Regions from separate parts of the Homo sapiens genome. Here all the other regions are linked to region 4. The links come from fine-mapping of genetic effects on plasma protein levels. A gene starts in region 4. Each other region holds a variant in brackets. All regions are shown on one strand. Distances are between the middles of the regions.

Evidence for each region. PIP is the posterior inclusion probability: the model's chance that the variant is causal. Protein levels are from antibody-based Olink assays in UK Biobank. Linkage for the fine-mapping came from a reference panel and not from the study's own genotypes, which makes the PIPs less certain.
Region 1: its variant is fine-mapped to the plasma level of the INHBB protein (UK Biobank, PIP above 0.99).
Region 2: its variant is fine-mapped to the plasma level of the INHBB protein (UK Biobank, PIP above 0.99).
Region 3: its variant is fine-mapped to the plasma level of the INHBB protein (UK Biobank, PIP 0.92).

What each region holds. Positions count from the first base shown.
Region 1 is chr2:120,544,578-120,552,678 of GRCh38, forward strand. It overlaps LOC105373585 (a long non-coding RNA gene), which reads right to left. Exons shown (of 4, transcript XR_001739681.3): 3 at 7,311-8,101; 4 at 1-2,182. Among named protein-coding and RNA genes, the nearest start is that of LINC01101, 82 kb to the left of the region's middle. RefSeq lists enhancers at 1-133, 7,286-7,435. The variant G/A (reference allele first, on the strand shown) is at 4,287.
Region 2 is chr2:120,585,276-120,593,376 of GRCh38, forward strand. No RefSeq gene overlaps it. Among named protein-coding and RNA genes, the nearest start is that of LINC01101, 120 kb to the left of the region's middle. RefSeq lists an enhancer at 2,849-3,742. The variant G/C (reference allele first, on the strand shown) is at 4,761.
Region 3 is chr2:120,455,126-120,463,226 of GRCh38, forward strand. No RefSeq gene overlaps it. Among named protein-coding and RNA genes, the nearest start is that of LINC01101, 7.2 kb to the right of the region's middle. RefSeq lists an enhancer at 1,632-2,193. The variant G/A (reference allele first, on the strand shown) is at 4,867.
Region 4 is chr2:120,343,046-120,351,146 of GRCh38, forward strand. INHBB (inhibin subunit beta B) reads left to right here and starts at 3,091. Exons shown (of 2, transcript NM_002193.4): 1 at 3,091-3,591; 2 at 6,054-8,101. The coding sequence starts at 3,144. The coding sequence ends at 6,829. It overlaps LOC105373989 (putative cuticle collagen 91), which reads left to right. Exons shown (of 3, transcript XM_047446882.1): 2 at 877-982; 3 at 1,842-2,948. The coding sequence ends at 2,869. RefSeq lists a cis regulatory region at 243-733.

The DNA of each region.
Region 1 (8,101 bases), 200 kb after region 4:
AGGCAAGAGGGGCTTCAGCAAAGACGCAGGGGTAGGAACATTCCTGGAACACTTAAAAGAGAGAGAGGGAAAGCCTGGTTAGGAATGGGGTCCCGTTGGTGAGCATGGGCCAGGAGAGAGGCTTACCATCTTGGAAACTTCCGTATCACTCCGCTGGGCCTGTGGACCCTGAACATGTGGCTCCCGTGCCTCCCCAGGCCTGAATCAGCTCTGCCTGAGGCTCCCCGCACTGTTTCCCCACTGGACCTTTCACGCATGGGTGTAATTATTTGTTAAATGAGGGCCAACTGCACTGGACCCCACGCTCGTTGAGAAAGGAGTAGATGCTGCTCTGTGTTTCTGAACCTCCCTTAGTGCCTGACATTATGGAAGGAAGAAAGAAGAGCTCACTCCTCAGGAGTTACACTTTTTTAGCATGGGATTCAAGTAGCTGATTCCTTAAGCTACCAGCAATTTCATCTTGAAAAATGACCTAATTCTCTAGTTTCCCATTAATTTAGACTGGCTTTCTCTTTGATAGAACAAAAGAGAGCCGCACCTCGTCAGAAGAGTGACTGCAGATGCACGAAATGAGTGGGCCTTTCTGCCTATGGGTGACATCATCTTAAAGCTTTAGAAAAGTCACAGACGTGGCCGGGTGCGGTGGCTCACACCTGTCATCCCAGCACTTTGGGAGGCCGAGGCAGATGGATCACGAGGTCAGGAGTTCGAGACCAACCTGGCCAACATAGTGAAACCCCATCTCTACTAAAAATACAAAAATTAACTGGGCGTGGTGGCGCATGCCTGGAGTCCCAGCTACTCAGAAGGCTGAGGCAGGAGAATCACTTGAACCCAGGAAGCAGAGGTTGCAGTAAGCCAAGATCCTGCCACTGCACTTCAGCCCGGTTACCGAGCAAGACTCCATCTCAAAAAAAAAAAAAAAAAAAAAGAAAAGTCACAGACGTTATGCTCCTTCGGTAGTGGTAGTGTAAGCGATGAGATCTGGCAAGGGCAAAGAGGATGACTGGATGGATTATAATAAGGCAGATAAATGTGGAAGATAAGACCCCAGACCCTAGCGTCTTTCCAGCTCTGAAATGCCTTCGTTCTCAGTGAGGCTGGTTGAACAACTATGTTGTTGATTCAGGTTGGTTTCACATACCTCTGAGAGGAGAAGAAAGAAATATTTCTGGGCTGTTTGGTGAATGCGTTTCATGGATAGAGAGAGGGCAAAGAGGGACAACCTTTACAGATTATATATTGGCTTAAGTCTACTCACCACCAAGCAATTGGCTAAAGATGTCAAGTTTTCCTGGTTCGGTTTTCAAAGTTACATTGCAGAACAAACATTTAAATTCCTGGTGGATTGTCTCCCGGTTTCCCTCCAGATGTTTGGTGTGGTGTAGATATCACAGTAAATAAATGTGTTTAAAAGTCTAATAAATTAGGCTAGAGGGTGTGTGGGGGAGGGGGGTGCTATTTTGCTGTGGCCCTGGGACAAAGACACAGTGGGGATCAAGAGGTTCCTTGCACCTTCGGCTTGGTAGGTATGGCGGGGAGTGCTGTCAGCAGGCTCGGGAGCAGTGAGGTGGTGTGGTGAGGAATGCACCGGAGAGGCTGACACTGCCCGAGCTGTCAGAATTCACATTGCCGGAAATGCAGGAATGAGTGGAGAGGGGGCTGCGGGGGTGTGTGTACGTGGGAATGTGCAGAAAGACAGTGCGTGTCCTCGTTGGCGGCGGCCGTGGCTGGGCTGGAACTGAACAGGGCGGGAGGCAGGGCCCAATCCTGGAATCCACTTGTCAATCCCTGGCTCCAGATGTCTGCACTGGGGGATTGGGGCTGCCTGGATGGGGAAACTGACAAGCTGTGGTTACGTCACCGTCCAAAGGCCTGATTGACTCATGCCGCCCACTAGATGCCTTTTATGACTTGTGGCGCTGGGGCCAAACGAATTTGCACGGTCATGTGTTACTGAGCAGTTGAGGGGGAAAAAAGTCGCTTTTGGTGGTTTTAACTGTGAGATTAAACATTCTTCAGGAGGACAGCAGAAAAACAGGCTGGGAGATTAAACGAAACAAACCCAGCTGTGTTTGGGGAGTTGAACGCTTCTCTTCCAGTCTCCTACTCTCAGAACAAGATCAGGTGAGGCGCAAGACATCTTCTCTGGGAAGGTCCCTCTCTGCTGGGGAGGCAGAAGCTGCAATAAAAATGACACACACTGATGAAGGTTGGGACCTGGGGAATGTGCCCATCTGCCGCGGGAGCTGCCTCTGTTGTGCTGCCGTCTAGCTGTTTCCCAGGGTCATTTGCCAGCTTTGATATCCCAGAGGGAGTTATTTAAGTTGCCACCTTTGAGACAGGTGAACTGTCGCCTCATTTATGACTGACTGAGCCCCAAGCTAAGGTGCCTGTCGATCAGGATCACTTTTTCATACACCCAGGGCCTGTGGCTGAGCATAAGTGTGTCAAACACCTGTAGGCCAGAGCTGACTGCCCGAGGGAGATGCTGATCGGGCAGGCCTGGGCTTCATGAGTTTAGCCTGCCTTCTGGTAGCTAGAACCTGCCACTCTGCAGCTGGGAAAACTGAGGCCCAGAAGGAATCAGGCCTTACTCTAAGAACCACTACATAATGGGCGATCCAGACTTTGGACCTGGAAGCAAAACTGACACTGCCCTACTCACTAGCCATGCGACAATTGGTTAATCCTTCTAAGTCCATTTTCCCATCTGTTAAACGGGGGTGATGATGATACTAGCATCTTCTTGGGGCTTTCCTGTGAAAGTTCAATAAAGATTCATATGTAATGGGTGATTTTCTGAGAAAAATTCGCATCTTAGCCTTTTTACTGTTAATGAATTGTTCTCTGGGGCAGCTGGGCATCTGAGTCCCATGCTCCAGCCCCTAACAGCCTGTGGGTTTAAGGGCTTTAGGGTTTTGGGACCCAAAAAGGATAATTCAACCATGGAATCCCAAAAAGACAAGAAATGGAGGCTTTGGTATACCAAATGAGAGAGAGAGAGAGAGACAGAGAATATGTGTAGCTCAGCTCTATGGGGCTGATGAGGAAGGAGGACAGAGATATAACAGGATGGGCCATGGGACCTGGGACTTCCAAATCCATAGCCACTCAAGTGGCCCAACCTATGGTGGAAAAGACCACCTTGGTACCTGGGACTCATGAGTCCAACCAAGGAGGCCCCATAGCCTGCATGAGGTCCCTCTAGCTGGCTGGCTTCAAGGAAGTGTGGCCAACAGCAGGAGATGCCCTTCACAGCAGGGGCAAAGCTGAGCTGGGCAGGAGGCCAGGCTGGCAAACCTTACCCCAAAGATGCCTGCCAAACATGCCCAGAGAGGGGACACCACTGCCCACTATGCAGCAGAGCTTCCTAATATGCCTTAGGGCTTACGCAGGGAGGGAGGGAGCATCAGTGAATGACTGACATTGTCATGTTTGCCCAGCTGTATCAATGGGGAGAAGGTCTGGAAACAGATATAATGGATTAGATAAATCGATGTGACATTTCTTACATTCAAGCATCATGGATAAATTCACCTCAGAGTCTAGGACACACTAGCCTAGGTATGCCCTGCAAATGACTATTAATAAAGGACTGTTAAAAATGGACTGGCAACTGGGTGCAGTGGCTCATGCCTGTAATCCCAGCACTTTGGGAGGCTGAGGCAGATCACCTGAGGTCAAGAGTTCGAGACCAGCCTGGTGAACATGGCGAAACCCCGCCTCTACTAAAAATACAAAAATTAGCCAGGCGTGGTAGTGGGTGCCTGTAATCCCATCTGCTTGAGAGGCTGTGGCAGGAGCATCGCTTGAACCCGGGAGGTGGAGGTTGCAGTGAGCTGAGATCATGCCACTGCACTCCAGCCTAGGTGACAGAGTGAGACTCCATCTCAAAAAAAAAAACCAAAAAACAAACAACAAACAAACAAACAGAAATTGTAGTCATGCACAACCCTTAGGCTGCTTCTAGTTTCGGTTGATGAGTGTAGCTCCTGTCAAAGTTTGAAGTGAGCGAGGGCTAGCTTCTTCTCCAAACCTCACAACGACGTGAGAACGGAAGCAGTCTCTCCAAATTCTGCCACATGGAGACATTTAGAAAACAAGCATTCATTCACGAGGAGCCCCAAATGGCTGTATAAACTCCTGAGTGCCACTGGTGGAATCCGGGCCCTCTGCCCTTTGAGGAGCTCCTACTCACTTGCATGTGCTTATCTGCAACAAATACAATGTTCCTGGCAGGACTTCTTTGTCCCCACAGGCCTCTTACTCAACATTAGGCAAAT[G/A]GAAGTCCTCCCAGGTGAAGGACTACACCCAGGACTGACAGGCATCAAGCTTCGGGCAGCAACGCCACAGGGCAGAGCCTCCAGGCCTCACTGGCTTCCTACACAGTTCTTGCAGCCCTGCGAAGTGTCTCTAAATCACACAGGCCTTGAGTACCTCGACTTTCACCAAATGGAAGCTTATTTCTCATGTCATCATGCTGCTTAACAGGCAACTATTTTTACCAAAAAGAAAACACACCCTCGAACACCCATTTCTGACATTCTCTATGATTGTTGGCCAAGTGTGGGGTGTCGATGGAGAAAACAGAAGTGGGTACAGTCATCATTCTGGTGTGGGGGCTTCCTCATGAGATTGCCACGCCCACCTGGCCTGGGACGTGTGGTCAGTGACTCGCAGCACCCACCTGTGGCTTAATTTTTTTTTTTTTTTTGAGACAGGATCTTGCTCTGTTGCCCAGACTGGAGTGCAATGGTGCAATCCTAGTTCACTGCAGTCTTGAACACCTGGGCTCAAGCCATCCTCCCACCTCAGCCTCCCAACTGGCTGGGACTACAAGCATGTGCCACCATGCCTGGCTGATTTTTAGATTTTTTTTTTAGAGACAGGGTCTTGCTATGTTGCCCAGGCTGGTCTCAAACTCCTGGGCTCAAGCAGTCCTCCCATCTCGGCTTCCCAAAGTGCCGGGATTGTAGGCGTGAACCACTGTGCCTGGACTGTGGCTTAACTTAAGTGGCATTCTCCAAGTATCACATTGGAGCAGGCCCTCCAAATGTGAGGCAGAAGTGGAACTAGAGCTCTGGGCCTGAGCTGGTGGTCCCTTAATTAAAATATAAAATAAGTTAGGAAACAATGCCAGGTTCCTTTTCTTTTGGTATCTTACTGCTCCCAATTAGCTTACGAGCTTCTTAGGAACAGGGCCAAGATTTTCAGCCACATAATGCTAGATGCATTGTATTTTCTCTTTCTTGAAATATTTATTAAGTGGCTCTTTGGATAGTGGAAAAGTTGGCTGAAAAGACATTTTGGGAAATGAAGGCCTCGATGGCCAGGTTCAAGAATCTGGATTGCATTCAGGGGAGCCAGGAAACCAATGAACCCTTTTGAGAAGGGAAGTGGCTTGATCAAAGGGATGCTCAACAAGGAGCACTTAGCTGACCAAGCAACCATCCAAGGGCACCCAAGTCCACGCACGAAGTCATGCTTCTCCCTGGCCGTGCTTCAGTCAAGCTGTTGATTAAGAACAGGGGCTACGGCATATCTATTGTATGCCAGGCACTCTGCTAGGAGTCTCAATTCCCAAGGCATCTGAGTGAACCATCCTCTTCCCATTTTCCAGAAGAGGAAGCCAAGGCTGAGAATGAGGAGTGACGTGCTCAGAATCACACAACAGGAAGGGTGGAGAATCTCTGCCTGGCACAAAGTGCTTCTTTCTATGTTCTGCCTCGACTTGTCCCCAACCCAAGGGATTCTGAGCTGCTCTGGAGGTATCTGGAATAAGAAGAGACAGATGCAGAGCAGGACAGTTCCAGCTCTTTCTTGGGAACAGCAGTACAGAATGCGAAATGCTTTCAAGCAATAAAACCCGTTATCTGTGCAGAAACCCATCTGTGCTAAGGAGAATTCCGCAGGGATTATTGTCCCCTGGAGACAGGAGAAGCCATTTGGTGGGCTAAAGCATCAAGACAAGACCTTGGCTGATTATAAGTCACATTAGACAATTACATTCTTAGCTCCTGGGAGTAATGATGGCTGGATTTGCTCTGATTTCTTCTTGTTGCAAAATAATGCCTGTTTAGGATATTTTGGCCTTCTGTGTAATAAACCTGTGTATTGGATTGAGTCGAAATATTTGGCACATTAAAAATTACTTTCAGTCAAGGTTTTTTAAAAGCCCCATTTTTCTGTCCACATTCTCCTTCATTCCAGAGACCCTAAATGTACTCTATGTGGAGACTGATTAGTCATCCCGGGTGTAGGACCAGCTCTGGGGCAAACAATTAGGGTTTTCATTTTACTCTTTCATACCCACCATGTTGTGAGTGGGGAAGAAAAGCAGGACTGAGGGATGTTATGGCTCAGGCTAGCTATGTGTGCCCTCTTTATCTCTGACCTTGGGAAGCCCACACACTGCAAAGAGGCCAGCAGGGATCTGGGGACAGGCAGACTTGGATTCTGATCTCTGCCCTGCCTCTTCCTAAACCTGTGACCTTGGGCAAGTTGCTCAACCTCTCTGAGGACTGATCTGTTTCTCTGTAAAACAGGGCAACTAATTGAATTCTTAGGGGATTAAACGAGGCAATGGATACAAAAGCATTGTGACTGTTCAGGAAATGTTAACATGTGGCTGGTAGTTGACAACTTCACTGTTGAGGAGTTCCCAGTCCCCAGCCACAGAGACAAGATTAGCAGAGATTATCTCTCATGGGGCAGAGGAGAATATGGGGGGAAATATGGGCTTTGGGGTCACCCAGACCTAACTTGTGCTCTCCTATCTCTTTGTCCTGAGCCGTTACAATAGCTCTCAGTGCCTCTCTTTTCTTATCTGCAAAATGGGCTTATCATAATACATGCCTGGCAAAATGTGTTAAGATAGCTCATGCCTGAGAGCCAGGTTTATATTAAGACTTTATTGGATGGCGACAAAACTGGTGCCCAGCAAGGGGGCCTGCCAGATAATTCATCAGGGTCCCAGGCATTATCCATGGACAGAATATATTCTCTCACACGCACTTGTCTGCATGGTTTTGAAATGTAAACAGAGGCTATTGCAATAAATGAAATAAATTCTTGCCAAGACACTAGTGAATTCATTTCCTCTCAGCCAATGGATTCTAAGAGGCCGAAAAGGAGAAGTGAAAATTTTGTTTTAGCACTACATAAGGCTTCTCGTACTTGCAGCCAAAGAGGTCAGAGATTTGGTCCCAAGACCAACTTAGAGTCATGTGTGACACTGGGATTCAGAGGCTAGTTGTGGGCCACAGGGAGGAAGCTGACCCCTGGGCTCACCCAGCCCACCCACTCACCAGCTCTCCTTTCCTTCCTGGGTCCCTTGGGGAGGAGAAGCCATCCACCTCATGGAAAGTGCTTTAGAGGCTCCTCTGTGGGTGCCCTACTCTGCACCCTTTGCGGGGACTCTCTGCTTCAGTTCGCAGGACAACCTTAATAGCTAACTGCAGAGAGGACTGAATGGTTAAGTAGCTCCTCCAAGGAAGCAGAGCCAAGTATCAGAGGCCGGTTTCCATCCAGGGATTGAGAGAAGAATCAGGAGCACATAGGCTGTGGCAGTAAAAAGCAGATCCCAAAGACAGTATAGGGCGGCTCGAAAGGGGCCTTCCTACATAGCCACCACCACGTGCTCCGGCGCTACCTCCAGGGGGCTGGGCGCAGCTGGAGGACACAGTTCGGCAGCTTGCTAGAAGCCTCCAGCTCTTCCTTTTCTGTATCCTTCAGGTGACTGTGGAAGGCTGGCCGTGCAGCCTGCCATCAGCCTGGCCTCAGCCGGGGAGGGGGACCTTTCTCCTGGAGGCCACAGAAACACTGAGGACCTCTCAGCTGAGAAGGTCAGATGGAGGTGCTGGATGATTGGAGGAGATCAAACTGATGAGGAAAACGCAAATGGCATCCTTCAGGAGCAAAAGCTGTCTCCTCTTTTACTTCACATGTCCACCCAGCAGCTCTATGAGTTCTGATTCAGCATTGCACTTACCACCCACCCTCCCCGCCTTTTACAGAAAAGGAAACTGAGGCTCCGAGGTTGCGGAGTTGCTTGCTCCAGCTGATGACAAAGGCAGGTAAAGCCAGGGCTAGAGTCCCT
Region 2 (8,101 bases), 240 kb after region 4:
CTCATGCTGCTTCCACTCATGGCAGAAGGCGAAGGGGAGCCATGCGTGCAGAGATCACATGGGGAGAGAGGAGGCTAGAAAGATGGGGGAGGGAGGTGCTTGCTGGACCCTTTTGAACAACCAGCTCTCACAGAAGCTAATAGAATGAGAACTCACACTGCTCCCCCGGCTGCCATCCCCCAATCTTCTGAGAGGGAGGGCATTAATCTATTCATAAGAGATCTGCCCCCGTGACCCAAATACCTTTCACTGGGGATCAATTTTCAACATGAGATATGCAGGCTGGGGGCGGCAGGGGAGATGCAAACAACCCAACTCTCACTACATGTCATTTGTCTGGTTCTACCAGTGTTAAAATAGTTTTTATTTTGGTCTGATATTTTACAAGGGAGTTTTCACATCAAAATCTGGATTTCGGGCCTCCCCTGAAAACGTATACCAATCTGGCAGCACTAGACCCTTATTCCTTCATGGACCAAGCAGCTGAGCCACTGCCCTTTAAAGGCCTGAGGATGGGACATATGGTCTGGGAGTCCTGAGGAGCCAACAGGACCCAGTGAACAGGCAGGTAATGGGAGCAGTGGCTGGTGGGCCCAGAGCCCTAGGGTAGGGGGTGAGGGGATGAGGCTGCAGCTGTGGCAGGGTGGGGCAGTTCCTGGGCTGCTGTTGTCACCCAGGCGAGAAGTCGTGGCAGAGGGAATGCGAGGGAGAGGCCTGGCTGGAGGGAATTTGGGACTTGAATCCACAGCCCACAGGGCTTGAGGACAGATGATGTGTGTGTGTGTGTGTGTGTGTGTGTGTGTGTGTGTGTGTGTGTGTGTTGGGGTGTGCAGGGGAGCCTAGCTGTTGGAGGAGGAGGTGAGGAAACACCCCAAGATGCTCACATAGAGAGGTAACTGCTCATGAACACGTAGACCAGATCCAGTCACCCTCCTGCTTAAAACCCAAGCACCCTACCTGAGAGGCCCGGCCCCTGCCCACCCCTTACCCGAGAGGCTGGGCCCCTGCCCACCTGGGTGATCCTTTGCTCTCACTCTGTGCTCCCTTGTACTCCAAGCCACGCAGCCCTTGGGCCATCCTAGAACCAGCCAAGGGCTTTTTTTTGGCCTCAGGGCCCTTGCACTCACTGTTCCCTCTGCCTGAGACACTGTTCCCCTGACTCCTTAGCTGGCCAGTTCCCTCCTCATCCTTCAGGTTTCCTCTTAAATATGCTCTCCTAAAAGAGGTCTGGAATAAGCTCCTAGAGGCCAAGGGACAGCAGGAATGCTGACTCCCACGGGGTCCCCGGGCCCATGGAAAGAGGAGTAGATTTCTGAGTGCAAAGGGAAACCTTTGAAGGGCTGGCGTGGGGGGTGGGGCGATGAAGCAGCTGGGTCTGATTTACCCCCTGAAAGCCTGCCAGTAGCACCCGCATGGGAAACCACAGGGCCGGAGTGGCCACTGGGGAGAGTTGGAGCCCTTGTGCTGGTGACAGGCGCAGAGGTAGTGCAAATGGAGAGAGGACATGGGGTATTCTGGAACCCACAGGACTTGCGGAAATGCGGGAAGGAGTGGGGTGAGAGCCATAGGCAACAGGAAAGAGTCAAGCGGGGTGGCGCTGTTTCCAGCCCCAGCAGGGGGTAGGAGGTGGTGCCAGTTTCCTACGGTGGAAACCCAAGGAAGGCACGAAGCAGGTGTGCTTTGGAAGGAACAGTTCTGGCGCAGCGCCTCTTCCTGTCGGCCCCCTTCTACAGTGCGCCTGGACACAGGGTGACGGCGCAGAGCTGCGCGGGCATCCCCAGCTCCGTGGCTCCGGCTCAGGTCGGCTGAGAGGCCTGGATCGAGGCACGCTGTCCCCGCGCCGCCCGCACTGCCAAGGGCAAGGGCACGGCCGTGACCGGGTAGGAGGCGGATCCCACCTGTGAGCCACTGAGCCACTCAGCCTCCGGGGAAGAGCGAAGATCAAAGCGGCACCCCACGTCGCGGGGCTGGGGAGGGAAGGGCATGAAGGCCTGTCCTCTGCGAGGCTTCAGGCGCCTGGAGGCAGGGTGGGAGGGCAGGGCGCGGGGGCTTTGTCTGCGCGGAAACGCCCTGCCCGGCGCCCGCACAAAGGCCGCTTTGTGCCCGCGGCCGGCGGAGGTGGGGGCCGCGCGTCCCCGGATCCCCCTGCCCCGGCCCGGCCCGCGGCCCCGAGGGGGCGCCCGCCACTTCGCCGCCGCCAGCCCGTGGCCCCGGGCGCCAAAGGGCCTCTTAATTGTTCCCAGAACGGGTGGCATTTAGGTCAATTAATATGCAAAACAGGAGTAAATCATCTCATTCGCGGGCCCCACGCGGGGCGGGGAGCCGAGGCATTTGCTAGGCAGCGAGGTCGCGGCCCCCGCCGCGTGTTTATCTGGGGAAATGGAAATCAGGCGACGCACAAAGCCGCCCCGCGGGCCGGGCCGCGCCCTCGGCCGCCCTCGGAGGGGTAGCCGGCGCCGGTCCCGACCTGCGGCCCGGGCTGGCAAGTCGGCTGCAAGCCTGGGGTCGCCTCTGGCCCTCTCTGGTCCACCGTGCCTAGCTGGTGATAGCAGGAGTTCTGTTATTACATAAATCAGGTATTGGGAGAATAATACGATTCCCTAAGTGCTTCTAATTGGAGCTTGCGTGCTCCTGACCCATTATTATGCTACTGAGCCTTGACTGAAGTCCAAAGCCTACTCGCATTCCTGCATTTAATCCTCAAAATCGCACTAAGAGGCAGGTGATTATTCCTATTGTTCAGCTGAAGAAACCGAGGCAGAGAGGTGAAGATCGTCACCTGGCCCAGACTAAGCCCTTCACCATTAAGGTGTGAGCCCCAGGCCTCTGTTATTTCACTGGGCAGCTCTCTTCGCTGGGGAAAATGGCCCCTGCAGGCAGAGTTCTGTGAGTCTCGCTACTACTGCACCATCCTTACTCATTCTCCCTGAATTCCAGAAATGTAACAGGACCCACTGTGCACCTGCACTCTTCTAGACTCAGACGGTTCCACAGGGAACAAAACAAGAGATTTTGGCCTCTTAGGACACCAGCGAGAGCACCTCCAGGAGAAGCCAGCAGGGCGACAGGAATGGCCCCTCGAAGGAGGTGACACCTGAGCAGAGACCTGAGGGAGGTGAGAGAGACTTCCAGGAAGAGGCAATGGTCTTGAGGCTGCAGCATAAGGAGGCCAGGGAGGGGGGTGTGTGGAGCAAAGCGGGAGGGATGGAGACAAGGCAGAGGTGGCCAGGGCTGGCACTGGGGGTGCCGGCTCTAGTTCCAGCTGGACACCGGAGTCTCTGGCTTCTCTTGGTCTGGGGACAGTCTGTGCATGGGGAATTGTAAAGGCTTCTGCTTGGCTCAGCCTGGTTCAAGTGGCCCCATCCTGGGCTAATTGGCAGTGGCTAGGGGCAGGTCACATACTGGACACACTCCCATCAGCTGGACACCCACCCCAATCGATACCCACTACGCAAGTAGACCCCAAACCTGGGCAGCAGGCAAAGTCAAGAGCAGTCCAGGGAGCCAGGGTCCAAAAGCTGGAGACATTTCTGAAGGTTGTCAATCTGTGAGGACAGACATGAGCCTGGAACTGAAGATTTGGATAACCCACGTGCACTGGGGCCAAGAGATAAGGGGCATCAGGTGTCCAGACGTGATGGAGGGATGGGAGGGAGAGGTAGGTGAACAGGGAGTGCTCAGAGCTAGGTGAGATATTTTAGCAAAATCACCAAACAGGAAAAGTTGAAGATGCTGGTCCCGTGCAGCTGCTTCTGTAGGAGTTCATGGGGACAGGGGTTACCAGAGGAGGGTTTGCAAATTTTTCCTATAGGATGCCCTCTCTATGGTGATGTACTTGGTCGTCAGTCAACTGCCTGGACAGCCCTGACTTTTCCCCTCTCTCCCCACCCTTGCCATGCGCTCATCAAGCCTGCCCATTCTTGCTCCTTAATGCCTCTCTCCCCAATCCCTTCCTTTCCATTTCTGTGGTTCTCTTTTGGTGAAGACTATCAATCATCTTTGGATCATTGCAGCGGCTTCCGCCCTGATCATGCTACTCTCACTCTTGCCTTCAATTCACACTCCAGATAGGGCACCACAGGAATCTTCCAAACACGTAAATCTAAGTTACCACCCTGGTTAAAACCTTCTATAATTAACACAACAACACAACCTGATTAAAAAATGGGGCAAAGGACTTAGGCATTTCTCCAAAGAAGATATACAAATGGCCAGCAAGCACGTGAAAAGACACCCATCACCCATCTTTAGGGAAACGCAAATCAAAACCACAATGAGATACCATTTCACACCCATTAAGATGGCTATTGCACAAATATGGTCCATTGCATAAATATATCTCTTCTCCTGTTGATGAACGTCTGGGCTCTTTCCAGTTTGGAGCTATTATGAATAAAGCTGCTGTATATTGGGAGACAATTCCCCATGAGTCTCTCGCATTTCTACACATCTTATGAGTAAGGCACTGATTGACCTATCTTTTCATGGGTGTTTGTATTGCAGACAGCTTTGGAAGATCAAGCGTCTCCCTCTGGAGCAAAGGGCAAGCACGCTTGCTTCCCATTGTAAAAGATCCAGGTTCCCTAAGCTCAGGGTTCCTCTCCTGTAATGCAATTCACTGCAAGTACAGGATCCATCTGGGCCCACTCACATTGTTCTGTGGGACTTGGGGCAAAAGGAACTGACGCAAATATGCTGATACACATGCTGTTTGCTGTGCTGTGAGGAATAACATCCTTTGTCTCTGACTCATGGTTCTG[G/C]CATCTTCTGCCAGCCTCTCAAGAGCCTAACTCATTACCTTTCAAGTTGAGTAAAATTTCAGACCCTTTATAGTTCTTGACATTAAGTGTTCTTATACAAGTGTTTCTGGGAACATATATTTTCCCACTTCTTCTTTGTCCTTCTCATCCTGCTGCCTGGAGTGCGGACCTGATGGCTAGAGCCCTGGTTACCATCTTGACCCATGAGGACCAGAGACGTAGTGGGTAGAAGGAGCATGGGTGTCCAAGGCTTTTGCAGGTCAGAGTGATCATATTGGCCCTGGAATTTTACAGGAGGGAAAATGCCTTGCTTACACCACTGTACCGTGGTGTTTTCCAACCCTATCTAATGCAACCCATGTCGTGGCTCATCCTGTCTGGGATGTTTTCCCGCCCTCCCTTCCTTTGTTCACTAATGTATATCATACTAACCTCAAGAATGACTCTTCATATTTCTAGTTCTTCCCACAATGATTGCTTCCTGTATCCTAGGGCCTTGTACAGTGTCTGGCACAGTAGTAGGTGCTCAGGAGGTAGGAGTTGATGAGGTGAACAAATACATAAAAGAAAAACGCAGGTTGGCAGAGATGATGGGAAAGCGGCATTCTCACTCAGAGGAACAGGTAGAGCATTAGGTTGTCGGGGAGGGAGCCCGAGCTATAGTCCTGTACCGGATGACACCACCGCAGCTCTTTCCTCTCTGGGCTCAGTTCTCTGGCTCTGCAGTGTGGGCTTTGGCTAGGATGATGAATGCCCATGGTCCCCACTGATTCTCAAGCCCTGTGCAAACTCTGAAATTTGAATACTGCTTTCCTGGCAATGCCTCCCTGCTTTTCTCTCCTGTAACTTATATTTGACCAGTGGCATCACTTGATGGCTGAGAAAGGTCCTACTCCTTGCTGGGCCCAGGACTGCTCTGCAACCCAAGCTTGGGGAGACATGGGTGCCTGGGCAGCTTAGCAGCTGGGGAGACTGACAGCTTTAGTGAGCCCAGCGGGTGGCATCAAGTTTCTGGGTGCCTGGTCACCATGTTAATCTGCTCTTGGTGCCACTAATACCAATTTGTGAGCAGACAGCCAGGATCAGACAGGCCAGCTGTCAGGCAACTGTGGACAGCTCAGTGTGTGGTTTGATTTTATGGCTTAGGGCTGGAATTATAAATTAATTAGCAAATTTAAGTTTCTGGAGCTGCTTCAGATAGGTAGCTCCCAGGGGCCAGGTGACACTAGTTTGACCCAGTGACCCCAGCCCAGGTCCTGCCACCCACCATTACCACCACCAAGGGAGTCAGAAAGAGTCCATCTTGTTTCCAGCACCACCACCACCCTGCTGGGGGACCCAGGTGGGCCCCTCTCCCTCTCTAGGCCCAGCCTCTTCATCTGTACACAAAGGAGCAGGACTGGATGCTTTTGTCTGTCTTCTCCACGCCAGCATTCTGGGATTCTAATTAGGCACAAGATGTCTAGCGTGTGGTAGAGCCAGCAAAGCTCTCTGTCCATGCTTCTGCCTCCAGGGCAGGTGGGACCACTTCCCCTGCTTTACCCCTGTAACCTTTACTGAGCTCCAGGGATCCTTGTTTCCAGAGAAGACAGGCAATAGAGTGGAGTGATCTAAAATTACACATGCAGCTGAGTCGCCCCTTCAGCCAATCTCCACCCTCCATCAGGGAGGTTTCCCAGTGTCCTGATGGCGGGGCGGGGTCTCCAGATGCCCCACTGGGCTACAGGCCCTGCCTGTCCTAGTGCTGCCTCTCATCCCCTCTCATCGCCCATGAACCCCGGCCACACCAGCTCCTCCCTAGTCCTCCTAAGGGCCAGCCGCCTTCCTGCCTGCCACAGGATCCTAGCATATGCCATTCCCTCTTCCTCCCCAGTGTACCCCCCCTTCCTCCAGCCTGTCGTCCTGCAGGCTAATGCCCCCTCCTTCAAGAAGCCTGACCTGACGCCCTATTCACTGCTCTCTGAGTGCCCTGCACTTTCCCTGGCACCCCTCATCACAGAGGGAAGCACTGACTCTTCGGGTCACTTGTTATTTCATGCTGTCCCCATCCCCCCTTCAGGACTGTGAGATCCATGGCAAAGGAGCACATCTGTTTTATTCACCAATTTTTTCAGAGCCTACTAGTGGTCTCCCAACATTTATTGTCTCCTCCTCTCTCCCAGTAAGAGATCTCTTGATTTTTAGCTTGGCCTGTGTTCACCCGAAATAAAGACCACAGCTCCCAGTACCTTTGCAGCAGGTTGTGACCACGTGATCAAGTTCCAGCCAACGGAGTCCGAATGAGCAGGCTGTGCGTGGCGCCTGGCTGTGCCTTTCCTCTTTCACCTCCTCCCGCTGGTGCAGGAGCATGAGCAGTGTAGGTGTGAGGTGTGCGGACCGTGCAAACAGGAGCTCGCTCCAGAAATGCAGAGCAACAGGTAGAGGGGCCTGAGCAATGCACCAGCTGTGGCTTTGACAAGCAAGGAGCCAGCCTATGTCTGGTTAGAGCCACTGTCATTCTAGCCCAGGTCATATAACTGCATCCTAAACCTAACTTGTATACCCCTACATCTGGTAGGCACCTGGTAAACATTTGCTGACCAAATGAGGGATTGAATGAATGAACGAGCAAAGTATTGGAAAACCAGAACTAATGATCCTAAGCTTCAAGCACATTTTGGATTCCAAGAGCTTTTATGGGCTGACCTGGGACCTAATAAACATTATTTGCTTGAAACATGGCCCAAGTCCTCCACAGATGGGCTTGTGTGTCCACAGACAGTGGCGGGCTTCATTGGCCCTGAGATGGGGCCTGTTGATCTTCTTCTTCCTGACACAGCCATAAGGCTCAGGGAGGCCCTTCCTGTGGCTAGCTGGCCCCCACCAAGTAGAAGGTGTCTCTTTATTTTTCTTTTCTTTTTTTTTTTTTTTTTTTTTGAGATGGAGTCTTGCTCTGTCACCCAGGCTGGAGTGTAGTGGCCCGATCTTGGCTCACTGCAACTTCCACCTCCCGGGTTCAAGTGATTCTCCTGCCTCAGCCTCCCAAGTAGCTGGGATTACAGGCACATGCCACCACACCTGGCTAATTTGTTGTATTTTTAGTATAGACAGGGTTTCACAGTGTTAACCAGGCTGGTCTCGATCTCCTGACCTCGTGATGCGCCCGCCTTGGCCTCCGAAAGTGCTGGAATTGCAGGCGTGAGCCCCCGCGCCTGGCCGAGGGTGTCTCTTTACCAGGGCTCCACCAAGCAGAAGCCCTACTAATGATGGCAAGGACGTGCCAAGGCCCTAAGAGTGAAAGCGAGACCAGATTTCATCCCAAGTTCTTTTTAGAAAGGTAGAAGTATTTTTTTAATGGATGC
Region 3 (8,101 bases), 110 kb after region 4:
TGGGGGAGCCAAAATGGAATGCAGACGTGACCAGTGAATCACGCTTATCACAAGTGAGTAACACTGAAGGAGGTGAGGAACGAGGAGGCAACCTCAGTAACGTTGGAAAATAGTGTTTTGTTTGACAACAGTAAGGCTAAGTAAAAAAGGACTGTTCACAAACACTGCCTTCTAGTTGGTAAATTTGTTTCTCACGGGGGTACAAATTAGCATTCTGAAACTACTGTACATGTATGCTAGGGTTGAACAAATAAGTAAATCTATTGTAGATATTGAAAGCCAGGTGTCTCATTTCAGAGAAATAACCTACAAATAATCAAAAGGAGAATGCTATAATGAATCCCGTGATGTTGGATTGGATAATGAATTCTGTACATACACAGATGCACAGAGAGAGAGAGAGACAGAAATAAATGTAAACACATGTGTGTATGTGGGTTAGTGTATAAACATGTGTTTCCTAACTCTGTCCACTATGAGGGCCTAGAAGCCATTGCAATGAGCACATGTAGCCCACAGTCCTTGGTTTCTAAATACAATTCTCCAGTAAAAGCTACCAGGGCTCCTTGAAGAAGTGGTTGACTTCAGGGTTGAGGCAGAAAAAATATAGTACTGAAAAAAAAAAGAGTGCATATAAAAAGAACACAGGAGACAGGAGGGGCTTCAGATCCTCCTGTAGAGGAAAATGGGGTAGAGGTACTTGCCCAATTCCTCCTGCTAAGTATAACAAAAAACCCTGGACATGATATGTAAAACAAACATAAAAGGATTCTGAAATGTGGAGAGGTGGCAGACTGTCCAGGGACCTCTGGATGACATGGTGGTAAGTCCCATGGATTTTTTATTTTTTTCCTCATATATCTCAGACTTGGAGATAAAGAGCCTTCCAGCCCAGAAACCCTAACTGGCACAGTAAAAAAAAAAAAAAAAAAAAGCCCCTCTAGCCAAAGGATCAGAAAAGGGGCCAACTAACAAGACAAACTTGTTTTCTATTTTTCTTTTCTGGTTTTTTTTTTTTTTTGAGATGGAGTCTTGCTCTGTCACCCAGGCTGGAGTGCAATGGCGCAGTCTCGGCTCACTCAACCTCTGCCTCCCGGGTTCAAGCAATTCTCCCGCCTCAGCCTCCTGAGTAGCTGGGATTACAGGTGCCCACCACCATACCTGGCTAACTTTTGTATTTTTAGTAGAGATGGGGTTTCACTATGTTAGCCAGGCTGGTCTTGAACTCCTGACCACATGATCCACCCGCCTTGGCCTCCCAAAGTCCTGGGATTACAGCTGTGAGCCACTATGCCTGGCCTGTTTTTTATTTTTCTTATTTATTTATCTTACTTGTATTTTAAGTTCAGGGGTACATGCGCAGAATGTGCAGGTTTATTACATAGGTAAATGTGTGTCATGGGTGTTTGTTGTACATATTATTTCATCACCCAGGTATTAAGTCTAGTGTCCATTAGTTATTTTTCCTGATCTTCTCCCTCCTCCCACCCTCCACCCTCCAAACACTCACACCCAGTGTGTGTCATTCCCCTCTGTGTATCCACGTGTTCTCATCATTTAACTCTCATGTATAAGTGAGAACATGCAATATCTGGTTTAAGATGAAAAAATTTTCAACGGTAACCCCCTACTCCAGCCAAACATCACAGAAGGAAAATGTGGTTCCGTCTCCAGCCCTCTAGCAAAGGCCAAGGGGCCTTCAGACTAGCAGTCTTGCAAGGCTGTAATAAGGCACCCCAACATTCTCTCTGAGTGGTGTTAGAGAAGGTCTAGTGAGGGTGGGGACTTTCGTCCCCACTCATCCATAAAGAGATGCCTCACTTTCTTCCCCTTCCCCACACTGGGGTGATGCAAGAGGATGCCTACTGGAAATTCATGGCTTTCACATTCTCCATGACAATGATGCCACCATCACCTCAGTAGCAGTGGAGACCTCATGGGACACAGAACTCCCACTCCACCACTGGAGGCCAAGGGAGGAACCTGGACTTCTATCTCCACCTGGTGGTAACAAGGTATTGCCCCCTACTGTTGCTGATAGAGTGGTGTCAGAGAAAGCCAACTAAAACAAATGGTTTAAAAACCAGGAAGATCTCAGATGAGTGACAAAAGACATTCAATAGATACCAACACCAAGATGACAGAGACGTTAGAATAATCTGACAAAGATTTTAAAGCAGCCATGGTAAAAATGCTTCAATAAGCAATTACAAACACAGTTGAAACAAATTTAAAGATGGCAAGCCTCAGCAAAGAAATAAAGGTATAAAAAAGAGCCAAATGGAAAATTTTCAAACTCAAAAAGTGAATAACTGAAATTTAAAAACTCAGTGGATGAGCTCAACAGTAGAATGGAAGTGGCAGAGGAAAGAATCAGTGAACTTAATGGTAGAACCTATCTGCATAATGGAGACAAAATAGACTAAAGAAACAAAAAATACAGAGCCTCGAGAACCTGTGGGACTATATGGAAGTTCTAACATTTTTGTCATTGGAATTCCAGAAAAAAAAGAGCAAGAGGATGGGGCTGAAAAAATTACTCAAAGAAATAATGGCTAAAAACTGCTCAGGTTTATCAAAAGACAAGTCTGCAGAATCAAGAAGATGACAAAATCCTTGTCATAGACAGAATGTGTGTTTCCCAAACTTCGTGTGTTGAAACCCTGCCTCCTAACATGATGGTATTAGGTGGTAGGGCTTTGGGGAGCTAATTAAGATTAGATGAGGTCATGAGGGCAGCACCACTATGAATGGGATTAGTGTCCTTACAAGTGTTCTGCAAGAGCTTGCTTTCTCTCTCTGAGTAACATGTGAAGACATAGTGAGAAGACTGCTGTCTATGAGCCAGGAAGCAGGCCCTCAGTAGACACTGAATCTGCTGGTGCCCTGGTCTTGGACTTCTCAGCTTCTGTAACGGTGAGAAACAAATTGTTGTTTAAGCCACCCAGTATGTAGTATTTTGTTATAACATCCTGAGCTACTAAGACAACCTCAAATTGAAAAAAAAAAATCAATGCCAGTTGTAATTAAATTTCTGAAAACTAAAGACAAAAAAAAGTTGAAAGCAGTCAGGGGAAAAATGACACCTTAACTATAGAGGAAAAACAATTTGAATGACAGTAGAATTACCATCAGAAACTATAGAAGCCAGAAGTGGCATAATATATTTTAAGTGCTACAAGAAAAGAACTGTCAACCCATAATTCTATACCCAGTGAAAATATCCTTCAGGAATAAAGGGGAAATCAAGACATTTCTGGATGAAGAAAAACTAAAAGAATTTGTCATCAGCACATCTACCCTAAAAGAATGGCTAAAGGAATTTCTCTAAACAGAAAGAAAATGATAAAGTAAAGAATCTTGAAACATCAGGAAGGAAGAACATAGTAAACAAAAACATGAATAAATATAATGAACTTTCTTTCTCCTCTTGTGTTTTCTAAATTATGCTTGATGATGGAAGCAAAACTATAACATTGTCCGGTATTGTTCTAAATGTATTTAGAGGAAAAATTTAAGACATTTACAAACAGGATGTAAAGAAAAGTAAGGTCTCTATACTTCACTCAAACTGATAAAACGATGATACAAATAGATGGTGATGAGTTATGTATATAAAATGTAATACCTACAGGAACTATTAACGTTGCTATACAAAAAGATACATACTCAAAAACACTATATGTAAATCAAAATGGAATTGTAAAAAATGTTCCAGTGACCCAGGAACTTTTTTTTCATTCCAGGAATGATGGTAATAGAAAACACACATCTGAGAAACAGAGTATTAACAGAGAACAGAAATAAAATGATGGAATGAAGTCCAAAATATTAATAATTACATTAAATATAAAAGATCTAAATACAGCCATTAAAAAAACAGAGATTGGTAGAGTGGATTATAAAGCACAACTCAGCTATGTGTTATAGGCAAGAAACTCCCTAATAATAATGATACAGGTAAGTTAAAAGTAAAAGAATGCAAAAGCATAAATCATGAAAGCATTTATCATGGGAAAGTAGGAGTGGCTATATTAGTATCAGATAAAGTATTTCAGAGCAAAGAATATTTCCAGACACAGAGAGGGATATTACATAGTGATAAAAAGTTCAATACACCAAAAACGCATCGCAATCTTAAACATGCATAGCAATGGAGCTGCAAAATAAGTGAAACAAAAACAACTGAAAGAAGAAAAAGACAAATCTACAATTATAGTTGGAGATTTCAACACTCCCTCACTAAACAATGGATAGAACAACTAAACAGAAAATCAGCAAGAATAACTCAATGACACTATCAACCAATAGGATTCAACTGACGTTTATAAAACACACCACCTAAAGGCAGCAGAATACATATTATTTTTTAATGCTCAAGGAATATATGTCAAGATAGATTACACCCTGGACCATAAAACAAACCTCAACAAATTTAAAATAATTCAAATCCTACAGAATGTCTCCTCCAATGGCAATGGAATCAAATTAGAAAGCAATAAATAATTCATGAGAACATCTCAATGGGGAGTAAAAGTGCTGGCTCCCCACTGGGCCTTCTCTGATACCACCCAGTGGGGTATTGAGGCTCCTCCGTATAGCTTGGGTGGAAATCTAGGCTCCCACTCAGCTATTGATGATGGGTTTGGGGTGGGGCCACACTTTTTCTTTGTTGTTTGACTAGAATGGAGTGGTTATTGACTAAAAGTTTTCTGTCTTGCTAGGCTTCTCCCTTGTATTTCCTTTGGGGCATGTGTTAGGCCGTTCTTGCATTGCTCTAAAGGAATACCTGCAGCTGGATAATTTATAAAGAAAAGAGGTTTAATCAGCTCACAGTTCCGAAGGCTGTGTAGAAAGCATGGCACC[G/A]ATACCTGCTCACTCCTGAGGAGGCCTCAGGAAGCTTCCAATGATGGCAGCAGGCGAACAGGGAGCCATGGTGGCATCTCACATGGTGGGAGTGGGAGCAAGAGAGAGTGAGTGAGGGGGAGGTGACACACACCTTTAAACAACCAGATCTCGTGAGAATTCACTCGCTATCATGAAGACAACACCAAGGGGATGGTGTTACAGCATTCATGAGATAGATTCTGCCTCCATGACCCAGTCACCTGTTTCCATCAGGCCTTACCTCCAGCATTGGGGATTGCAATTCCACCTGAGATTTGGCAAGGACACAGATCCAAACTGTATCAGGGCTTTTTTCTTTTTTCCATCTGTGTTCATTGGTGTTTCTGGGTTGCTGGCTTGTTTAGCTCCAAGTCTGGAATTTATAAGGCAAAAGAAAACCCAGGCAATTCACCACCATCTTGTTTCTTGGGTTCCGAGGTCCCAAGCCAGTGCACCTACTTCTTTTCACCTTTCAGAAGTGAAATTCTTGGTCTGCTGTATTTTGAGCAGTTCTCTAAGTAACGCCGATTTCACTGAAATTCGAGGACTACTGAATTTGCATCTGAGTCCCATGTTCCCTGGGTCAAGGCCTGAGTCTCCCGTGTTTACAACACATGCCCTGAGCAGAGCACAGGCGGTCCTGGTCAGTCCTCACAAGGGTCCCCCAAACCCTTGCAGGGTCTCCCAAGCAGCCTCGCCCATGCTCAGTGCTGCACACATTCAGCGGCTGACTCGCCCACTCCTCAGTCCCCTCCTGCTGAGCTTCTTCTTGTTTCCTCAAGCAAGAGCTCAGACTCTCCCCTGAGGCCTTCAGAAGGTGCTTGAAAGCTCTGCATCAAATGCACTGTGGAGAAACCCCTTTCTACTTCTCCCCAAAAAGCCAGCCCTCATCCCTCAGCCAGGGCCACTCCCTAGGCCCCAGCCTTCAGCCCAGCACCCCTCCTGTCTTCTGCGTCCTTTTGGTGCCTGTCTACCACCCACCTTTCCTGATAGAGGGAGGATGGGCCAGTCCGGGGAAAGCACAGCACTGCCCAGGCTCAGCCATTCAGCAAGCTCTGTGGAGGGAAGTGACTACTCCATGGGTCTTCTCTGTCCCAGGCTTTTAGTGAGTACAGCCTCACTGAATCCTCCCAATTCTTCAAAGATAGGACTCAATAGTGCCGATTAACAGAGGAGGAAATGGGGACTCAGGGAGGTTCAGTCACCTGCAAAGTTCACACAGCTGATGAGTGGCAGGTCTGAGACCAGGAGCCAGGTGGCCTGACTCAAGCCCAGGCTCTTCCACATATGAAACGTCCCAGATGTACTCTTCCCTTAGACACCCCAAGCCTCACCGAGGCTCTGAGTGTCAGTCTAGAGACCATGATCAGACCCCAAGGGACAGCAGGCACAGGCCCTGATCTGACCTAAGCCCTCTTGGTGGTAACCCTCGTTCTGGCCCATTTGGGCAGCAGAGGAGTACCCAGTAACTTGAAACGGAGAAGCAAGAAGCTGGCTGACATCAGATTTTCTGAGGGGCTTATGGGTTTCTATTTTCCCCTCATTTGAAAAGCCAAGTTGGGTTTATAGTTAGAACCACCCTTTCCTCTACAACACGATTAAGCTGCTTCAGAGAAAAATTGCTTTGTTTGGCCCTTGGATACCATTTCTTAGAAATGATGGTAGCAGATAATGTAGGTTCAGCAGACGTCCTGTCTCTGGTGCCTGGCTGGGTTTGGATGTGGGCCGAGAACTGGTGTGTCGTTGGTTTCCAGACCAAGCTGGTCCCGGCTGCTGTGGGTGAAGGCTTTAGCTAGGTGGGATTCTTAGGACTTGATTTAGTACATACCGAGTTGTTTGGGTCTTCAGAAAAAGAAATAAAAATAAAAAAGAGAGAGAGAAAGAGAAACATTTCCAGGATTTCAGTTATAGTCCTCATGTTAATGATACTAACGATAATGACAAACCAATTTTCACTGAGGTCCACAGTGTGCCAGGTCGCTCTAGCGTCTGTCTGCTGGTCGTGTGAAGTAGGCACTGTTATTGTCCCACCCATTTTACAGATGTAAAAGTGAAGGTCAAGAGCAACTTCAAAGTAGCCCTGTTTTCATTAAATGCTTCCGAAAATCAGATTCTTTTCTTAGTGTGAACTGCATACCCAGGAGAATAAATGGCACAGAGGTCGGTGTGGCTAGGAATGCAACAATGAATATGTGTTGAATGAGGGAAGGAATGAACTTGTTTCTTCTTTGTGATGAGCTTACATCTTTGACGTCATTTAGTTCAACTTTCCACTCAGTGTGAAAATCCTTTCTATAACACCCCTGGTGGGTGATCATCCACCTTGAATGCCTCCAGAGATGGGGAGCTCATTACCTCCCAAGGCAGCCCTTTCTACCCTTGGACAGCTTTAAGCCTCAGGAAGGACAAAGGTTTATTATTCTGAGCAGAACTCCGCCTCTCCATGCTGGGTAATGATTGGTTCCCATTCTACTCTTTGCTGTGGTCAAGCTTCTCTCAGTTCTGTAGATTTGTCCTAAAAATCAAAAGAGGCCTCCTCCTTCTCCTCCAGATTTTCCCTTTGGGGGACTTGAGTAAAGTCTGGCCAGAGAGGTGAGAGTCTGAGACCTGGACACAGAGTGGGTATTTGAAGGAAGGGGCTGTATGTTCAGCCTAAAGAAGCTAAATTGTCACAGAGGTGAGGGCGCATGAGTGGAGCCCTCAGCTATTTTTAAGGCATTGCAGATGCTTAATGAACAAATAGCAACAGCAATAATAACAAAAAGTAATTTACTGTGGTTCTGGGTGCCGGGCTGAAAGCTTTCCTCGTATCATCTCATTTGAACCCCTCAACAACCCTCTGGGGTGACTGTCAAACTCCCCACCTTACAGAGACAGGAACTGAACCCCCAGAAGCTCAATGCCCCCAGCTGGGATGCAGACCCCAGGGGATCTGGCTGGAGTCGCCCTTGTGCCCCCCACACCCCTGCTCTGTGGCTGACAGGTAGAAGCTGCAGGAAGACAGGCAAGTGTCTGCTTAACTGAAGCTCTTTCTAGAATGATAAATGGTGGGCAGGGAGAACCAGCTGCCTGGCAAGGAAGCGAGTGCCCAGGTGGCATCGCAGTTGGGAAGGACCTGTGGTGTGGACGGCCTTTGGGCCACATGAATCCAGTTGAATCTGATGGAAATTGAATTGCTGAGGCAGCCTTCGTGAGAAAAAAAGGAGGCTGAGGA
Region 4 (8,101 bases):
GCCCAGGAAGTCTGCTTCCCATGCAGGAGACAGACAAGGGAGGAGATAACAGCCAGGCACTGGGCTGAGAGCCTCACTCAGGTAAAAAACTATACAGGGCACAACCGGGTCAGGGAAGGCTTCGCCAAGGAGGAGAGACTGGGCTGACTCTGAGAGCCTGAGAATGAGTTTGTCAAGTAGCTGGTGGCTGTGGTGACGGAGACAGCCGGGTGGGCAGATGCAAGCAAAACCAGGAGGTGGCCAGCCTGGCTCAAGGCCACCATGCAGGAGGTGCTTCCCAGGAGGCAGAAGCTCCCGGGCCACAGGCTCCCAGGCAGGGCAAGGGCAACCTGATGGGAGAGCAGAGACTCTGGCCCTGGTGGAGATTCTAAGGAGGCAGAAGGGCTGCCATCTCGGGGATCCTCCTGGATCCCTGCTTCTGACTTCGGTCGGCAAACTCACACCCGCCCTAGTTTTGCCCGCCAGCTTCGGGTCGGTTCCTCCGATTGGGAGGGAGGGGGCGCTCGGCTTCCAGACTTGCAGGCCGCCGCGGGCCTGCGGTCCCGGCCGAGCTCCACGGTGGCAGGGCTGGCCCGAGAGACTGGCGGTGGGAGGCGGGGGCAGGAGGCCACGCTCCGCCTCCGACGTCCCCGATTCCCCAATATCCTGGGAAAGCCAGGATGAACTCCCATCGTGCTTCTGCCTTGAGTCTAGCCCGTTGCGAGGGAACGGGGTACGGCTCCGTGTCCTGTGGGCATTGTCATGCGGCCCCAGACCCGGGTGGGGGCGTGAAGAAGGACAGAGGAGCGCATTGCACTTGGGGCCCCGGACGGGTCTGAAAGTCAAGTTTCCACTGACAGTGTTCCTTGTCCGGTGGCCTGAGAACGGTGACCCTAGAACCATCCTTTATCGGGTTGTGTGAAGAGCCTGGCCCAGTTGCCTCGCTGGGCCTCCCACCCAGCCCCTGTGATACAGGTGTTACTGTCCCTTCACAGAAGAAGAGGTAGGCGATAGGAAAGGTGAGGACTCTATCCAAGGTCACTCCTGCAAAGCTGGCAGTGGCTGAGCCCGAGTGGAACCCGGGTCTGAGTGAAGCCAAAGTTTGTCTGCTGGCGAAAGTGGGAATTCCCTGGGGGTGGGGGTGGGGGTGGGGTACTGTAGACCCTGCCAGCCCCTCAAGCCCTGAGGCTCAGTGGCCTCCGGGCCGCGCGCCTGGGATCCCGCACAATCGGGGCGTTCCTCCTGGCCCAGCAGACGCAGCCGCTGGCCAGGCCTCCAGTGGCTACTGCCTTCCCGCCCTCCAGCTCGCAGGGTCCACGCCTCGGCCAGTGCGACGGCGGCCCGGGGAGCTGGGTGAGGGCACTGCAGCCCCAGAGCGGCAGCCGCCGGCGGAGCCTGCCTCTGGCATCCCAGGCCGCGCCGCACCCCGCTCGCCTCGCCAGGCTCGGCCGCGAGGGAGCGCCCCGGGAGGGCCGGGGGCGGCCACGGCGGCGGGAGTCGCCTCTGCTGGTTGGGGAGGGCGGCAGCTGGGACAGAGGCAGGGCCTGCGCGGCGGCGGGGAGGCGGGAGTGGGCCGGGAGGAGCGCCTGGGTCCAGCGCCTGGAACCCGTCGGTGCCGCCGGCCGCCCAGCTGGGCAAGGGTCCGGGGCGCCCACGTGGTGGGAAAGTTTCGAGGTAGCAAAAGTAGCCCGGCATTGCGGGGGGTGGGAGGGGAGAGGAGGGGAGGGGAGAGGGCCGGCTCGCCCCTCCTTCTCGGGAAGGCAGAAAGGAAAAAAGCGGTGGGAAGCAGGGGTGAGCGCGGGGAGCGGGCAGCCCCAACCTGAACAGATTCCGCTTTCTCCTCCTCCCCCCACCCCGGGAAGCTCGAGCGGGGAGGTACGGACCGTCTCCTCTCGCACGGGCAGGACGACACCCTCCCTCCCCCCCTTTTTTCTGCCAACGTCTATCTCAACGCGCGCGCACATACGGAGATTGTGCGGCTTTTTTCCCCCTTGGGAGAAAAAACGGGGAGAGTAAAAGAAGAGAGACCAAAGAGAAGAACTCCTCCTCGGCGAGCTCCGCACTCCGTGCCGCGGCCCGGCGCGGGGACGCCGCCGCCGCCCGCCCGCTCTCTCCCGGCCCTGCGGCGGGTGCCAGTACGAGCGCGAGCGAGGGCACTGCACCCGGGGACGCTGCGAGACTTTTCGGCGCTCGAGCCGACCTCGCCGCCGCCGCGGCAGGCAGAAGAGACAGGAGCGAGAAGGGCCCTGCCTCCCCCTCGCCTTCCTCGCCCGGCGCCCCGCGCCCGGCCGGGCCGCGCAGGCAGGCGGAGGGAAGGAGGGAGGCTGCGAGGAGGCGGGCGGAGCAGAGGCCCCGGCGAAGCGCGCTGCGGCCGCCCGCCCGTGGATGCGGCGCCCAGGGATCCTGGAGACAACTTTGCCGTGTGACGCGCCGGGAGGACTGCAGGGCCCGCGGCCGAGGGCTCGGCGCCGCCTGTGAGCGGGCCCGCGCGGCCGGCTCTCCCGGGCACCAAGCTTGCTCCGCGCCACTGCCCGCCGGCCCGCGGCGAGGACGACCTGCCCGTCTCCGCCGCCGGCGGCCCTTCCTGGCGCGAGGCAGTGAGGGCGAGGCGCTCAGGTGCGAGCGCGGGGCCCCGCCGCAGCGCCCGCCGCAGCGCCGCGCCAAGCCGCGCCCGGCTCCGCTCCGGGGGGCTCCAGCGCCTTCGCTTCCGTCTCAGCCAAGTTGCGTGGACCCGCTCTTTCGCCACCTTCCCCAGCCGCCGGCCGAACCGCCGCTCCCACTGACGCTGCTTTCGCTTCACCCGAACCGGGGCTGCGGGGCCCCCGACGCGGAAAGGATGGGGAGAAGGCTGCAGATGCCGAGGCGCCCCGAGACGCCCGTGCGGCAGTGACCCGCGACCTCCGCCCCGCCCGGCGCGCCCCTCGGGCCCCCGGGGCCCTCGGCGCCCCTTCCCTGCCGCGCGGGAACCCCCGAGGCCCGGCCGGCCCCCTCCCCCTGCGAGCCGGCGGCAGCCCTCCCGGCGGGCGGGCGGGCGGAGGCCCGGGCGGGCGCGGGCGCGGGCGGGGGCGGGGCGGGGCGGCGCGCCCGGAGCCCGGAGCCCGGCCCTGCGCTCGGCTCGACTCGGCTCGCCTCGCGGCGGGCGCCCTCGTCGCCAGCGGCGCACCATGGACGGGCTGCCCGGTCGGGCGCTGGGGGCCGCCTGCCTTCTGCTGCTGGCGGCCGGCTGGCTGGGGCCTGAGGCCTGGGGCTCACCCACGCCCCCGCCGACGCCTGCCGCGCCGCCGCCACCCCCGCCACCCGGATCCCCGGGTGGCTCGCAGGACACCTGTACGTCGTGCGGCGGCTTCCGGCGGCCAGAGGAGCTCGGCCGAGTGGACGGCGACTTCCTGGAGGCGGTGAAGCGGCACATCTTGAGCCGCCTGCAGATGCGGGGCCGGCCCAACATCACGCACGCCGTGCCTAAGGCCGCCATGGTCACGGCCCTGCGCAAGCTGCACGCGGGCAAGGTGCGCGAGGACGGCCGCGTGGAGATCCCGCACCTCGACGGCCACGCCAGCCCGGGCGCCGACGGCCAGGAGCGCGTTTCCGAAATCATCAGCTTCGCCGAGACAGGTGGGTCCGGCCCTCCGGCTGTCTGCCGCGGTCCCCGCTCGCTCCCGCTCTCCCTCTCCTTGCTAGCTCCGGCTGCCACCGCCGCCACCGCAGCCCGCGCGCCCTGGGGCAGCCTGGACTCCCGGCAGAGCTCCTTCGGCCGTGGCCCTGCGCGCTCCGCCCGGGTTGCAGTCCTCTTCCCCCAGGCCGCAGACCCTTGCCTGCTGCCTCAACCCCCCGCCGCCGATCGCCTGGCCCTCCACCCCTGCTCTCCGGAATCGGGCCCCAGCGCCTCTGGGCGCGCGTCCCCCTCCCGGCAGATGCGCGCGGCCCTGGCTCTGCGGGCACTTGCTTGGTGATTGCTTAATGTTTTTGTTTCCCACGATCGGAGTGTAGGCTTAGCAGTGTGGATGGAGATGTGTGTGCTTGTTGATATACGTGGGCCGGAGGAGAGAGAGAGTGTGTGTGTATCTGTGTGTGTGTCTGTGTGTGTGTGTGCCTGCGTGAGAGGCCCCTGGGGCCGCTTCCATCACCGGCGGCGTGGGCTTGCCAGGATTGCTGAAGCCTCGCTGGGGAGAGCTAGGCAACCTCTCTTCCGATTGTGTGGGCACCGGAATCGGGCGGAAGGCAGGCTTCTCAACAGGTCCATCATTTACACAGAGAAAGCCGCGGTTCGGGGACAGCCCCGTGCCTCTCGGCTTGCCTGGCAGCTGCAGCAGACCCCTCGCCCGAGAGGCAGAGTCGTAGTTAACAAAGGGTATGGCTCCTTTCTGGAATCCGCCCCCCCCCCCGGCCCCAGATTGCAAATCTCTAACACTGTCTAAATATAAAAATCAGGGAGAGAAAAATCTTTCGGAACTTTAAAAGAAGGAGAAAAATGTGCCCGCGCCAAAATGCTGCAAGTGCTTTCGACTCCGCTGTCCTTTTCAGGACTTGAATGAGCCAGGCTGGCTTTTGTGCCTGGAGCTCGGCCCCATTTGTGCCGAGGGGACTGCGGAGAAGGTCGCAGAGGGGGAAGCCCCGGTGCAGTTAGGGCGGGGGCAAGCGGGGAGCCTCGGTGGGGGGAGCGGTTGTGCCCCTGGCTGCAAATGCCCCCCACCCCACCAGGCAGCAGGCAGCCCGGGGATGAAAAGGGATGAAAAGTTTTGCATGGCCGGGTGTGGAGAAAAGCAGAGACAATCGGGGCTGGTTTGTGCTTAGAAAGAAATGCATTGCCGTTTTAGCTGTCCACTAAAGTGAGTCAGGGAAAGCTCGCCATGCAATTAGAGGGCTCGGATTAAAAGGTGCTTTGGGGCCCAGAGTTAGAAATGTGATTCTGGAAGGTCGAGGAGGCCTTTTGGTCCCGGTGGCACAAAATGACAGCGGGGGCTGTTATATTTCTGGTCCGTTTCACGGAGCCAGCTCTTTGACTTATAAATAACAGATTCAGGTCACAGGCAGCTCGTCCAAGACCAGCTTTTAAGGCTGCAGTTTCCCCCATTTCAAAGTCAGATGTCAGTGTTATTAGAGGAGCCAGGCGAGGCCTGAGGTAGGGGCTTGGGAGGGGCATGGTGGGAGGTTTGATAAAACCAGCCCTGACCACAGAGTTTCATTATTTGTTCTTCCTGAAAAAAAAAAAAAAAAAAAAAAGGAAAGAAAAACGTAGATTGTCAGAGGCAAGGGTCACCGGAATGTAGGATGAGAGGGGAGTCATCTCTTGATTGGCACAGCCTCCTTCTTGTTGAGCTGAATTATTGAGAAAATTAACTAGCCAGCTCCCCTACTCCTTGGGGATTTTGAACGTGCCATTAACAGGGAGCCAGAGTCTTGTCAAAGGATTGGACCTCAAGTTTTAAGGCTGAATGTCCTGTCCCTTGAAACTATTCTATAAGGGCTAGGCTCTGCAGCCTGCAAAGCACACGTTCCTATGTCAGAAACCTGAGCAGAGCCTGCTTGTTTGCAGTGGAGGTTCCACTGGGGGTTGGATCACATCATACTTAGGTAAACACTGGAAAGAGGCGGTAGGTGGCTCAGCTTGATTTTGCAATGCGCTAAGTTAACCAAAAAAAAAAAAAAAAAAAAAAGCCCTACTAAAACCACCCACCCCAAAATCCTCCCTGCGATCCTGGTTTTGTTTTTCAGATTTCACAGATACCCATAACAACTTGTTAAGATCTTGGCCCCCTGACAAGTTCTTCTGTTGTGCTTTGAGGCCTGACAGCCTGTCTCCAGGGAGCCCTGGCCTGGGAGAGGTGAGGCAGGATTTTATAGGCGCGGACCCTCCAGCCCCAGCCTGGTCCGGGTTTCTCAATGAGAAACGATTTTCTCTGCCTCTCCCAGGTTACAGTCAGAGGCCCTGGCCCCAAGAATGGTATTTCTGGTCAGTAACGTTTTCCAGCTGTGTGGCGAGTTGCATTCCAGCATCCTGCAGCAGAGAGTGTGTTTCCCCCATTGCCTTGTGTTCTCCTTGAATTAACTTGGCTCGCCCTTCCCCTTTTCCGCAGATGGCCTCGCCTCCTCCCGGGTCCGCCTATACTTCTTCATCTCCAACGAAGGCAACCAGAACCTGTTTGTGGTCCAGGCCAGCCTGTGGCTTTACCTGAAACTCCTGCCCTACGTCCTGGAGAAGGGCAGCCGGCGGAAGGTGCGGGTCAAAGTGTACTTCCAGGAGCAGGGCCACGGTGACAGGTGGAACATGGTGGAGAAGAGGGTGGACCTCAAGCGCAGCGGCTGGCATACCTTCCCACTCACGGAGGCCATCCAGGCCTTGTTTGAGCGGGGCGAGCGGCGACTCAACCTAGACGTGCAGTGTGACAGCTGCCAGGAGCTGGCCGTGGTGCCGGTGTTCGTGGACCCAGGCGAAGAGTCGCACCGGCCCTTTGTGGTGGTGCAGGCTCGGCTGGGCGACAGCAGGCACCGCATTCGCAAGCGAGGCCTGGAGTGCGATGGCCGGACCAACCTCTGTTGCAGGCAACAGTTCTTCATTGACTTCCGCCTCATCGGCTGGAACGACTGGATCATAGCACCCACCGGCTACTACGGGAACTACTGTGAGGGCAGCTGCCCAGCCTACCTGGCAGGGGTCCCCGGCTCTGCCTCCTCCTTCCACACGGCTGTGGTGAACCAGTACCGCATGCGGGGTCTGAACCCCGGCACGGTGAACTCCTGCTGCATTCCCACCAAGCTGAGCACCATGTCCATGCTGTACTTCGATGATGAGTACAACATCGTCAAGCGGGACGTGCCCAACATGATTGTGGAGGAGTGCGGCTGCGCCTGACAGTGCAAGGCAGGGGCACGGTGGTGGGGCACGGAGGGCAGTCCCGGGTGGGCTTCTTCCAGCCCCCGCGGGAACGGGGGTACACGGTGGGCTGAGTACAGTCATTCTGTTGGGCTGTGGAGATAGTGCCAGGGTGCGGCCTGAGATATTTTTCTACAGCTTCATAGAGCAACCAGTCAAAACCAGAGCGAGAACCCTCAACTGACATGAAATACTTTAAAATGCACACGTAGCCACGCACAGCCAGACGCATCCTGCCACCCACACAGCAGCCTCCAGGATACCAGCAAATGGATGCGGTGACAAATGGCAGCTTAGCTACAAATGCCTGTCAGTCGGAGAGAATGGGGTGAGCAGCCACCATTCCCACCAGCTGGCCCGGCCACTCTGAATTGCGCCTTCCGAGCACACATAAAAGCACAAAGACAGAGACGCAGAGAGAGAGAGAGAGCCACGGAGAGGAAAAGCAGATGCAGGGGTGGGGAGCGCAGCTCGGCGGAGGCTGCGTGTGCCCCGTGGCTTTTACCAGGCCTGCTCTGCCTGGCTCGATGTCTGCTTCTTCCCCAGCCTGGGATCCTTCGTGCTTCAAGGCCTGGGGAGCCTGTCCTTCCATGCCCTTGTCGAGGGAAAGAGACCCAGAAAGGACACAACCCGTCAGAGACCTGGGAGCAGGGGCAATGACCGTTTGACTGTTTGTGGCTTGGGCCTCTGACATGACTTATGTGTGTGTGTGTTTTTGGGGTGGGGAGGGAGGGAGAGAAGAGGGGGCTAAATTTGATGCTTTAACTGATCTCCAACAGTTGACAGGTCATCCTTGCCAGTTGTATAACTGAAAAAGGACTTTTCTACCAGGTATGACCTTTTAAGTGAAAATCTGAATTGTTCTAAATGGAAAGAAAAAAAGTTGCAATCTGTGCCCTTCATTGGGGACATTCCTCTAGGACTGGTTTGGGGACGGGTGGGAATGACCCCTAGGCAAGGGGATGAGACCGCAGGAGGAAATGGCGGGGAGGAGGCATTCTTGAACTGCTGAGGATGGGGGGTGTCCCCTCAGCGGAGGCCAAGGGAGGGGAGCAGCCTAGTTGGTCTTGGAGAGATGGGGAAGGCTTTCAGCTGATTTGCAGAAGTTGCCCATGTGGGCCCCAGCCATCAGGGCTGGCCGTGGACGTGGCCCCTGCCCACTCACCTGCCCGCCTGCCCGCCCGCCCGCATAGCACTTGCAGACCTGCCTGAACGCACATGACATAGCACTTGCCGATCTGCGTGTGTCCA